Linked DNA regions of Homo sapiens: regions 2, 3 and 4 are each linked to region 1. Evidence: fine-mapped expression QTL. A gene starts in region 1. Each other region holds a variant in brackets. All regions are shown on one strand. Distances are between the middles of the regions.

Region 1 (2,688 bases):
AACCGCCGCTTCCCGGGTTCAAGCGATTCTCCTGCCTCAGCCTCCTGAGTAGCTGGAACTACAGGTACACACCACCACACCCGGCTAATTTTTATATTTTTAGTAGAGACAGGGTTTCACGATGTTGGCCAGGCTAGTCTTGAACTCCTGACCTCAAGTGATCCACACCCGCCCCCCCCCGGTTTGGCCCCCCACAGTGCTGGGATTACAGGCGTGAGCCACCACACCCCGTCGCCTAACTCTATTTCTAAAAGCTCTGCCAGTTGGAGATTTCTCTAGCCCACTAGAGTTTCTGGCTTTGGGGGACAGGGAGGGAAGGGAGGGGAAGCTGTGTTATAAGAAGAAAGTTTAAAAAGTAAGCATAAATTATTTGAGCTTTTAAGAGACATTAACAAGCTACCATACTGAGGGTATTAAGAACACTAAAATTTGTTTGGCTTTGGATAGGGAAGCTACTGAAATTGAAGAAGAAAAGATGGGACTGAATGAGCACTCCTTGGGTTGGAGAAAAACCAACATGATCATTATCTAATCATCATCATAATAATGATAATGGACATTTGTATAGCACTTGGCAGTTTACAAGTTACTTTCTTATAATAATAATTACCACTATATGGTACATTACAGTAACAAATACTTTTTAGGGCTTTACCCCGTTCCACTGTAAAAGTTGGTATTAGTGGAGGATGTAAATAGACTTATCTACATGATTAAGGAACTAGGAGGAGTGGAGGTTCAACACCAGCAGTTGGACAGCAAACATCTTAGAAGACCAGGCACATCTTCAGCCACACCCTTGGGTTCAACTTGGTGGTCTCCTGGTTGGGGTCAGGAGCAGAAGTGGGGCCATGGCCTCCACTTCCCTTCCTGGGCAATGTGCCTTTCTTTCATCACCATGGAGTCCTTGCCTTTGTTTTGTTTCTCCTTGTCATTTATTTCCATTAACATGCAGTGGTTTTTGTCCTTTCTCTTCCCGATTGTCACTTTCCTCACCTAGATAGAGAAGAACCAGCCCTCACCTAGCTCACTAGTCTGTATCAGGCTCAAATGAGGTGATGTATGTAAAAAGGTTTTGAGACGTTAAAAAGCACAGTCCAGAAATACCTGAAAGCATGTAAACTCTTACGATTTGGGGGCTTAGCAGGACCAGGAATTTGATCTCATTGCCTCCAGGTCATATCATGACCCTCTAGGATCCCTCCTCCCTGTCACACATCCCTCTATGGGCACATTGATTCCAGGATTTCCAGAGTACATCAGGGCTGAGCCGACCTCATGGCCCTCGTGGATTGTCTCTGATATGGTTTGGCTCTGCGTCCCTACCCAAATGTTATCTTGAATTATAATCCCCACATGTTAGGGAGGGACCTGGTGGGAGGTGACTCAATCGTGGTGCGGTTTGCCCCATGCTGTTCTCGTGATGATGAGTGAGTTCTCACGAGATCTGACGGCTTAAAAGTGTGGCACTTCCTACCTCACTCTCTCTCTCTCTCCTGCTGCATTGTGAAGAAACTGCTTGCTTCCCTCTCACCCTCTGCAGTTTCCTGAGGCCTCCCCAGCCATGCGGAACGGTGAGTTAATTAAACCTCCTTTCTTTATAAACTACTCCGTCTCGGGTAGTTCTTTTTTTTTTTTTTTTTTTTTGGAGACGGAGTCTCATCTGTTTCCCAGGCTGGAGTGCAATGGCGTGATCCCGGCTCAGTGCAACCGCCGCCTCCCGAGTTCAAGTGATTCTCCTGCCTCAGCCTCCCGAGTAGCTGGGATTACAGGCGCCCGACACTATGCCCAGCTAATTTTTGTATTTTTAGTAGAGATGGGATTTCACCAGGTTGGCCAGGCTCGTCTCCAACTCCTGATCTCAGCTGGTCCACCCGCCTCGGCCTCCCAAAGTACTGAGATTACAGGCGTGAGCCAACATGCCTGGCCCTCAGGTAGTCCTTTATAGCAGTGTGAAAACGGACTAATACAGTCTCCCTGGTTTCTCACAGTTTTCTTCCATTTCATTGCTCTGTCCTTGTCTCACCTGAGTTGGGTATTTCCTCAGAGAATATTAAATATTTTTGCTGTCAATCTAGAATTGTAATTAGATAAGTTGGCAGCCAAAAGAAAAGAAACTTCATGAATTATAAAGCCCGATATTAAATGAATTTTTTGAACATTTGGTAAAGTTTATACCTTGTCTGGCTTCTTTGTTCCTTTCTCAAAACAATGATTTTCTCTTTCAAATATCTTATTCTCCGTTAAATTTTCATTTACAACCAGAATGTGGCTTTTTTCCCTAGTCTGAGAGTCCTGACATCATCTTAACTAGGGAGTTTGTGGTTATTTGTAGCCAGGGACTAATGAGCAACAACAACAAAATGTCAGAAATACTTAGAGGATGAAACAGATTATTAAATTCTATTTTGTTACTAGCATGTCCATAAATTAATCTACCACCAATTTTAGCCATACATTGAAAGTCAGTAACCTTGTGAAATCCATGTAACTCAGTTTTCCAGAGAAAAAGATAATGTTTACTAAATCAATCACTGTTTGTTTGTTTGTTTGTTTATTTTAGGCCAGATGCAGTGCCTCATGCCTGTAATCCCAGCACTTTGGGAGGCTGAGGGAGGATTGCTTGAGGTAAGGAGTTCGAGACCAGCCTGGGCAATACAGTGAAACCTCATCTCTATAAAAACTTTT
Region 2 (2,688 bases), 63 kb before region 1:
TTGATTTAAGCCTTAATTTGAACACAAAATTTCTCTTTGCTAACCAGCTGGGTGAGGACTTTAAAGGAAGGTTATATTAGGTGGAGAAAAAGTAAAGTATGTTTTCTCTGCATATCCAAATCATAGTACAAAGTAAATACTGTGCATCTGACACACAGGAATAAAAGGACCATGAAATCACTTGTCAAAAATCTTAGCAGTTTAGAAAAACCAGGCAGAAAGTTGCTGCAGGGTCGGATGGGTCACTTTCTTAAAGTTCCCACAGATAGGGCTGACTGCAGCTTTCACAACTGTAGAAAACACAGGAGGAAATTCAAAGAGCGAACCACGATGGTGGATTCCTAACTCTTGGTCAGACCCGCCCTCTAAGTGGTAGCTCAGCTAGTCTGCCCATGGTGGGCACCAGGCAACTTCCATGGAGAGGGGATATGCCCACTCACGTCCCCTCCTGGTCAATACTTATAGGCATGTCAGCAAAAAGACTTGTTTAAAAATAAAGAGTCCACAATATATGATGACCCATACACATGTTTCAAACTGTGAAGCATAAATATACTTATTGTAGGGAAAAAATAGTACACAATGAAAACAACCACATGGGCCTGGGGTTCACTACCTGCCCCTTTCCACTAGGACAAGACAAAAGGCCTTTGACATTCTCTTCCCTGAATCTGTTCTGCAATCTCTTCTTCAGTTATCCTTGTGATTCATCCATGGATCTCCTGCATGCTGTGCTGGGTCACGTGCCACCAGGATCCTTCACAGGGCACATCCTGTCATTGTATCAGGTCTGAAGCAGTAATAGTCAGTGAGCTCTCTCGGTCCTTCCTCCTGCAAAGTCTTCATCTTCCTAACTCTGACCTTTACTGTTCTTGTTTCTAATTGCACAACAAATGTAATGTGTAGGCTGTATTTCTCCTCCAGTGAAAATCCACTTGGTCCAGTGCCTGCTGCTAGTAAACCTAGCTAGTAAGGTTAGAAAACCTCTGCTCTTCATCATGCTGAAAGAGATGGCCTTTATAGCCCTCTTTAACTGCTGATGGGAATAGGACAACTTCTAGGCTGGCTGCCTTGGCTCCCCCATCCCCGTTATTCATAAGGTTTTACTCTAAATCGTTCCTGCACCCCACTGTTAAGTGTCCTGCCAGATGCATCAAGGGGATTTACAATCACCCATTTGTGCACTCCATGGACTTTCCTGCTTAGTTCTGTAATTCCCTCTGCTTACGTAGATGAAACCCATTGTTACACTTGTG[C/T]GCTTACCCATGTGCTTAGTGCTAGCAATTCTGAGCACTCGATATTGTCATGAGAAAATACTACAAGATTGCAACCCAGCTCTCTGCACAGGCAGGCCTATCCTCCCCGCAGTAGCATATGAGCTCCATGAAAGCTACAATCTAGAATGCTACATCCCAGTGTCTTGAACTGTGCCTGACATGTAGTAGGCACCCAATAGACATGGGTGGAACAGATGATTGAGTTGATGAGCAGAAAAAAACAAGAGGCATGTTGCATCTTCTGTGCACAAAATCCCACCAGCAAAGGAACCTATGTACAAGCTTCTTTTTTTGTTAAAGGCCTCCCCTTACACCTCGCCAACCCCACACCCTTTTTCAATACACAATCTCCTGGAAAAAAAAAAATCCCTGTGTGATCTTTAAATATTACCCTTGTGCTGGCACCTTCTTTGCCAAAGGCAGGAAAAACTCGTCTATCAAGTTTCCCTTCATTTGAGCAGAGGCAACTATCTACAGCTTTGGAACTATGGCTCTCTCACCAGCAGCTGAGCACTTTGATCTTCATGCCATTCCCCGAAATAAAGAGGCAGAAGCCAAACCGTAGCCTGGTCTCAGCTCTCCTAGCCTCAAGCTGCATGAGGCAGAACCATCCAAAGGGCCAGGCATCCATGGACATCTGGCAGAGAGGGCGCAACCCCCTCTGGGCTCCAGCAGCTCTCAGCGGTGCTCCTTTGAGGTTCTTTGTCCCCAGGGAGTCTAGTATGTGTGGCCAAGAGTTTCACTGGCTCTTTGACTGTAGCAAGCATCTTAACTTAGTTAAACCTCAGTTTTCTTATCTATAAAATTAGAATAACAATAGTATCTGCCTCACAGGATCATTATGAGAAATAAATAAGACAGTATACACAAAGTGCTTGGCACAAAGTAAGAGCTCAATAAATGATAGCTATTATTATTCCTGCTTGGTATGATTTGTTCATGCACTTTTGTTGTAAACAAATAAACAAATGCAACCTGCAATCTGAAATAAATAGAAAAAGCTCACCTATCATTATTAATTCATTCAACAAAGACTGTGTCAGGCCCCAGATGAGACAGGCAAGGTTTTCAAAGTTTTGGTGTTGAGTCTTTAAGTCGTCTGGGTCTTCACTTAAGTTGATCCCTGGAATCATAAGTACTCTCTGTTTGCGTTTCTCTCTCTCAGTGCCCACAACTCAGCTGAATGTAATGTTTCAGGACACTTTCCTGAACTGGACACATCTTAGGCTGGATCCTTTGGAAGGCAAATTCTGACATTAGCGTTTAGGAAATTTGTAAGAGAGTTCTCTAGGGATTAATACCTGTGGAAGAGAGAAGAAGAAAGCAGACTGGTCAGAGGGAGAGTCCAACAAAGCAATGCAGTCCCAGCAAAGGCCTCAGAAACTCCACAGACATGTCCCAAATTGGAGAG
Region 3 (2,688 bases), 180 kb before region 1:
CAGAAGCTTCTTAAGACTCAAGCCCATGACAATCACTGGCCTCCTTTGTAGATCTCTTGCTCTGGTAACCCTAAGATGCCTACAGCTTGTGTTTTGTCAACCACAGGGCATGGTGAGCCATGGTTGATCCCAAAACCTCGTGTAAAATTTCTTAGCACTGAGATCCGGGGCCCTGGTGTCTCTGCACTGTTTCTCTGATCTGCCCACTTCTTGCTTTGACTGATCTTTAAAAAAGACTGTCAAAGGTGGACTTTCTTCTGCAGTGGCCACTGAAGCTCTTCCCTTTCAATCAGACCTTTCCTAGCACAGATGAAAACTCAGCTCCTCCAAGGAGCATAGGAAAAGTTACCTAAAGGGATAGCCCTGCTCAGATGTGTAAAGTTTACATGTTAGTCATACCAAGTTTATAAAAGCAAGCATACCTACTCTGGAAGAAGGAAACTGGAAGACCTGCTGCACCTTTTACCTGAGATAAATAGCTGGGGGATGTTGCAACAACCCTGAACCCCTTCTGGGAAAGGGTGCGCTGTTTATCTTTGGAGTCCGCCAGCATGGTGGTGAATGCTAAGGCTGCAAGCTCCACACCCTTTTTGCATTGCTTCCTTCTGACATGCAGCCTCTTGCTGTCAGGTCCCAGCCTGCAGTGCCACAGTGGGCTGCTGGACAGGAGAAATGGTACTTTTCATGTGGTCAGTGTGGGCTTCCGTCCAGCAAGGCAACACTGTGCGTCCTTTGAGGCTTGATTTCTTTAGTTTTTGGAGCTAAGCCAAATGGCAGTGCCAGGGAGAAGGCACTGCCCTGTAATGTGTGGATGCTCTTGTCAGTCAAGGCTAAAAAGACTCCAGCTAGGACATTTCTGGTGAAAGGTGCTTTTCAGCCCTGGGGCATTTGCATTCTGAGTGAGGGCCCAGCCCGATGGAAGAGGACCTCCCTGTGTGTAGGAGCAAAGTTTCACTCATAATCAAATCTATGGGAGGTAGGGGGTAGAAAGAGGGGTGAGAGAGAGGAAAATCCTAGTTGTGGCTATTCTGGCCCCGTTCAGAAATGGCTCACTCATTGAGGGGGACACTTTCCTGGAATTCCTTCTCTTCAGACTTGAAGGTATGAAAAACTATGAAAAAAAAAAA[G/AG]GAAGAAAAAGAAAAAATGGAACATAAAGGAAAACAGTACTTTTAGGCATTCTCCTCTTTGGGAAGTTGGCGCTAGTCACACACACTAACTAGAAATCTCTGTTTACATCATGCAGACACAATGGGCTGAAAGTGAACCAAGCAACGAGATCTCTGTGTGTGTGTGTCTCTCTGTCTCTGTCTCTGTGTCTCTTACACTATCTCTCTCTGTTTCTCTGTATCTCTTTCTGTGTTTCTCTATCTCTCTGTGTCTCTGTCACTGTTTCTCTTTCTCTGTCTCTGTCTGTTTCCCTGTCTCTGTGTCTCTGTCCCCCTCCCTTTGCATATGTGTGTATGGGTTCCAATGGACCAATAGCCAGTTCTCTTTTGTTTTGATTTTATTTTAGTAAAAAGCAAAGAAAGTCCCTGATAAATAAAGCTGAATTAATGGGAATTGTCTCATCTATTCCTGAATGCAGTCTTCAGAACCAGACAGAAATGGATTCAAATTATGTTTGGCAGCTTCATGACTTTGGCTAATTCATATAATCTCCCTGAATACCAGGTGAGAATTTGTCACTGATAAAATTAGACTATCAAGCCTGGTTCATGGTTGGGTGGTGCGATTAGATGAGGTAGCTGTGTAAAGCTCCTTAGCTCAGTGGGGGATGTGTGGAAGTGAGGCTGCAGGAAGAGACATTGGCTTGGGCTGGCAGCCTTGGAAGCCGTAGGAAGTGTCTTGTTTTTATTCCCAAAGCAAAGAGAAATCAGCAAAGGTTTTAAAGAAGCTAGTGAGGGGTGGTTTTGATGTGGAGAAGGCATTGTTGAGGGTGGGAAGGGCCAAGACCAGAGGTGGGGGGACCTATTAGGAATTACTGCAGTGGCCCAAGTGACTTGACATTCTAGGGGCTTTGATTTTGATTTCCTGGCTTTTGGCACTGCACCTGTTCCTAACTCTGTGAAAAGATTTGACCTTCAGGTTCCTAATCTTTGACCCACCCTGTTACTAAGCTTACTCCTGGATTAAATGAAGCTCTGGTTCAGTTTTGTTAATTCAGTATTTACTAAGTACCTATCATGTGCTAAGAACTCTACTGGCTGAATATAGAGTTTAATGTAGAAACAGTAAATAGGTTTCAACTACTCACTGGTAGAGTCTGTATTGAAAGGATTAAGAGGGCCAGGATTGATTAGCCATGTTTGCTGTGGGTGAGGAGAGTGCTGGCAGCATGTTTGTCACACATTTGCCATCTCCGATCCAGTGACTCCCACCTCCTATATTCCACCCTCGCTTGATCCTGGCTCTCCTCAGACCATCTTCTTATCTTCAAAGAGTTCCCATGAGTCTGGACACAGTAGCAAGCGTCTGTAGTTGCTGCTTGCCTAGGAAGTATTGGAAAAGAGGCATTCTTTCAGCATGGAGACTGCTAAACCAGAAGTGTGTTAGCTGACGAGGGCATCCACATGGAGAGAACATGCCAGGCAATAAGCAGAGATGAAGACAGAGTTAAGAGATGCAGAGGCTGAGCAGGAGTGACCATCCAGGCCTGGAGCCAGTAACACCAGAAGCGCTCATCATGGG
Region 4 (2,688 bases), 23 kb before region 1:
CTGGAAACCTATCTTATTGTGGGGAGGGTGGGAGTCTAATTAGGTAAACAGATACATGCACAGAGAAACTTATTACGGTGTTATTTTATAACAGTAAAAAAAAGTATGGGAAACAAACTGATAACATGCGCAGTTCTGTAAACTATGGTATATCCACCAGATGGGTAGATCTGTTTACAGGGAGTCTGTCAAACCTGAGTATAAACATGTATATACAATCTTATCAAAATTATATATTTTTAAATACAGAAGCAAATATGAAATCTGCACAATTCAAAAGGTTTGGAAGTAAATATACCAATCTTGGTAGTGACAGGTTTTTGGTACAGAGATTTAGAGTGACTTTTCTTGCCTTTTTATGTTATTTTCAGGTTCATCGTAAGGACTATCGTGTACACAACTTTTCTAATCAGCAAAAAATAAACACACTTTATAAGGAAATAAACAAACATAAAGATGCCATATGGAATCTTTTGGTTTGGGAGATGGCTGAGACTAGGATAACTCAGATCAAAAATACAATAAATTATCTCAGTTACCAAAAAAAAAAAAAAAGGGTGGGGCTGACTGGTAAGGGACCTACATTTCATACCCTTCTTAAGTTTGCTGGTTTCTGCCCAGGATTTCCATTAGAGCTGGAGAATAGGAGCTGAGTTAATTTTCCCAGGGGCGCTGAAATCCTGACATTGGTACATTCCCTGTCATGCATTTATTCTCATTCTTAATGCCATGGTGACCATAAATGTGAATTAAAACTTGAAGTATTTAGCATTTATTAAGCACTTCCTATGCACAGGCACTGTTTTGGTGCTTTTTATACCTTTATTTCACCTTTCTCAGGCTTGCGAAAGCTCTTAGTAAAAAGAACTATTGTCTCCTTCCTCCCCGCTCCCCCACGTCAGCCTGTTCTACACACTCCTTTCTTCTACTCACAGAGAGTGCCTTTTAGGAATATAATTGATTTGGATAAAAGAAAAAAAATGGGCCAAATAGGCTGCCATTTGTTATCAATAAAGCCTCGCAGCTGCCTGAACGGTTGACTAAATAAGCACCTTCAAATGGTCAGAACAGGGAAGGTTCTAGAAATAGGGCACCAGAAAATCCCACAGGCTTTCTGCTTGTGATGTGGCTTATTTGCTTTACAGGCGTCAAGCATATTTGCTGACGTCAGCAGCCCATCAAAGTTTAAAATAATAATAGTGAAAAGGAAAACAGCCCCTTTCTTCCAGGCAGTTCTGTTCTGCCAACTTCTGC[G/C]TTCTTTTTGAGTTAATAAACGTCCAAGAATCACTCCCCTACCACCCTGAGGGGGAAAAACAGCACAATAATTTTAAAACCACCAGGTCAGCCCATTGTCAGCATAAACCATTCAGACAAGTAGCATTTTGTCACACTCTAATGAGGATTTTACCTCTGCCTCAAAATGAAAGCTATCATTAGGTTTCGTGTTTATGGGATCAAATGATTGTCTGGGGATGGTGGGTTTTTTTCAGTCCCTTCCTCATTTTTATCATGTTCAAGACCAAATGCATAGACATTTCCTGCATCAGATGAAACTAAAAAACCATAGTTATGCCAGCTAATGTCTTTTGAAAACATCAATTAAGAAAATGGCCTTTAAATTCCCATTTTTACTTGAAAATCTGCAAACAGGCACACATGTTGTAATACCAGGGCAGTGGTGGTGGTAGTGCGGGGCGGGTGGGGGGTGCTGTCTCTAAAAAGGAGACAGCACAAACAGTGGTTTGAGGAGGTCATAAGGGCAGGCTCCCATTGGCAACAAGCAGATAGAGAATCTCTGCAAGGGAAGGAACTTCTGTATAAAGCAAGACCTCTTAAGTTATCTTCACATGTAGTGTTGAAACTGGAGCCAGCCCCTCAAGAGTAGGTTGATAAGAGGCTTCTGCACCATGCTGGTACCACACACATGCCCCATTGTTAATAACCTTCTCAGGACAGATTAGATCCCACATTCCTCAGAAGTACTGAGCTGCAGAGGGAAATCGGCCAGCAGGCTCCTTCCGCGGGGCCAACAACTAGCTACAACTGATAAGTTTTAATTGAAACAACTGGAACAATTACATGGAGTCCCCACCAGCTCTGTCGCCAGCTACTGAGATGGTGTTGCACTTGCATCTCCTGGCATGTGCATAGGCGTGTGCCAGACAAGAGTAATTCAAGTTCTTAACTCACTTTTTATCTTTTTTTCCATGACTACGTGCCATCGTTAATCACATTGTTCACCCAAGGAGTACTATGAGATTGTTTTATTTTTTTCTTTTCTGTCCTTATCTAGGAAACCCTGATATTTACACTATCTCAATTTAAGTTTGAACAAGTAACTGATTAATCTCTGACAAAACATACTGAAGTTAGACGAGTTTGGGTAAAATCCGTTAAGGTCATGGTTGGTTTTAATCACATAGCTCAATTTAAAAGCTGAACACTAAAACATCTTTGCTTTCAAAGAGTGCTTGTTAGACAGCAAGTTTTGTTTTGCGTAACTTGAATTCTGCTACTTCCTTTTATTTTTTTCTGAAATAACAGTGATTGAGTCAATGAAGTGGCAATACGAATTAAAGGGCAACTCACCTGCCTTTGAAGGGACAGATCCCAAAGGGCCCAGATTAAATTTTAACCACGATTATGTTTGCCAGGATTTTATATCTCAAATGATTATGTTTGGCTTTT

The links. PIP is the estimated chance that this variant, and not a neighbour inherited with it, causes the effect.
Region 2: its variant is fine-mapped to the expression of LINC00958 in thyroid (GTEx, PIP above 0.99).
Region 3: its variant is fine-mapped to the expression of LINC00958 in prefrontal cortex (ROSMAP, PIP 0.95).
Region 4: its variant is fine-mapped to the expression of LINC00958 in whole blood (INTERVAL, PIP above 0.99).

The regions. Positions count from the first base shown.
Region 1 is chr11:12,988,342-12,991,029 of GRCh38, reverse strand. LINC00958 (long intergenic non-protein coding RNA 958) reads left to right here and starts at 1,482. Exons shown (of 2, transcript NR_038904.1): 1 at 1,482-1,574.
Region 2 is chr11:13,051,508-13,054,195 of GRCh38, reverse strand. No RefSeq gene overlaps it. Among named protein-coding and RNA genes, the nearest start is that of RASSF10, 44 kb to the right of the region's middle. The variant C/T (reference allele first, on the strand shown) is at 1,257.
Region 3 is chr11:13,166,419-13,169,106 of GRCh38, reverse strand. No RefSeq gene overlaps it. Among named protein-coding and RNA genes, the nearest start is that of BMAL1, 110 kb to the left of the region's middle. The variant G/AG (reference allele first, on the strand shown) is at 1,128.
Region 4 is chr11:13,011,810-13,014,497 of GRCh38, reverse strand. RASSF10 (Ras association domain family member 10) reads right to left here. Exons shown (of 1, transcript NM_001080521.3): 1 at 2,379-2,688. Among named protein-coding and RNA genes, the nearest start is that of RASSF10, 3.8 kb to the right of the region's middle. The variant G/C (reference allele first, on the strand shown) is at 1,255.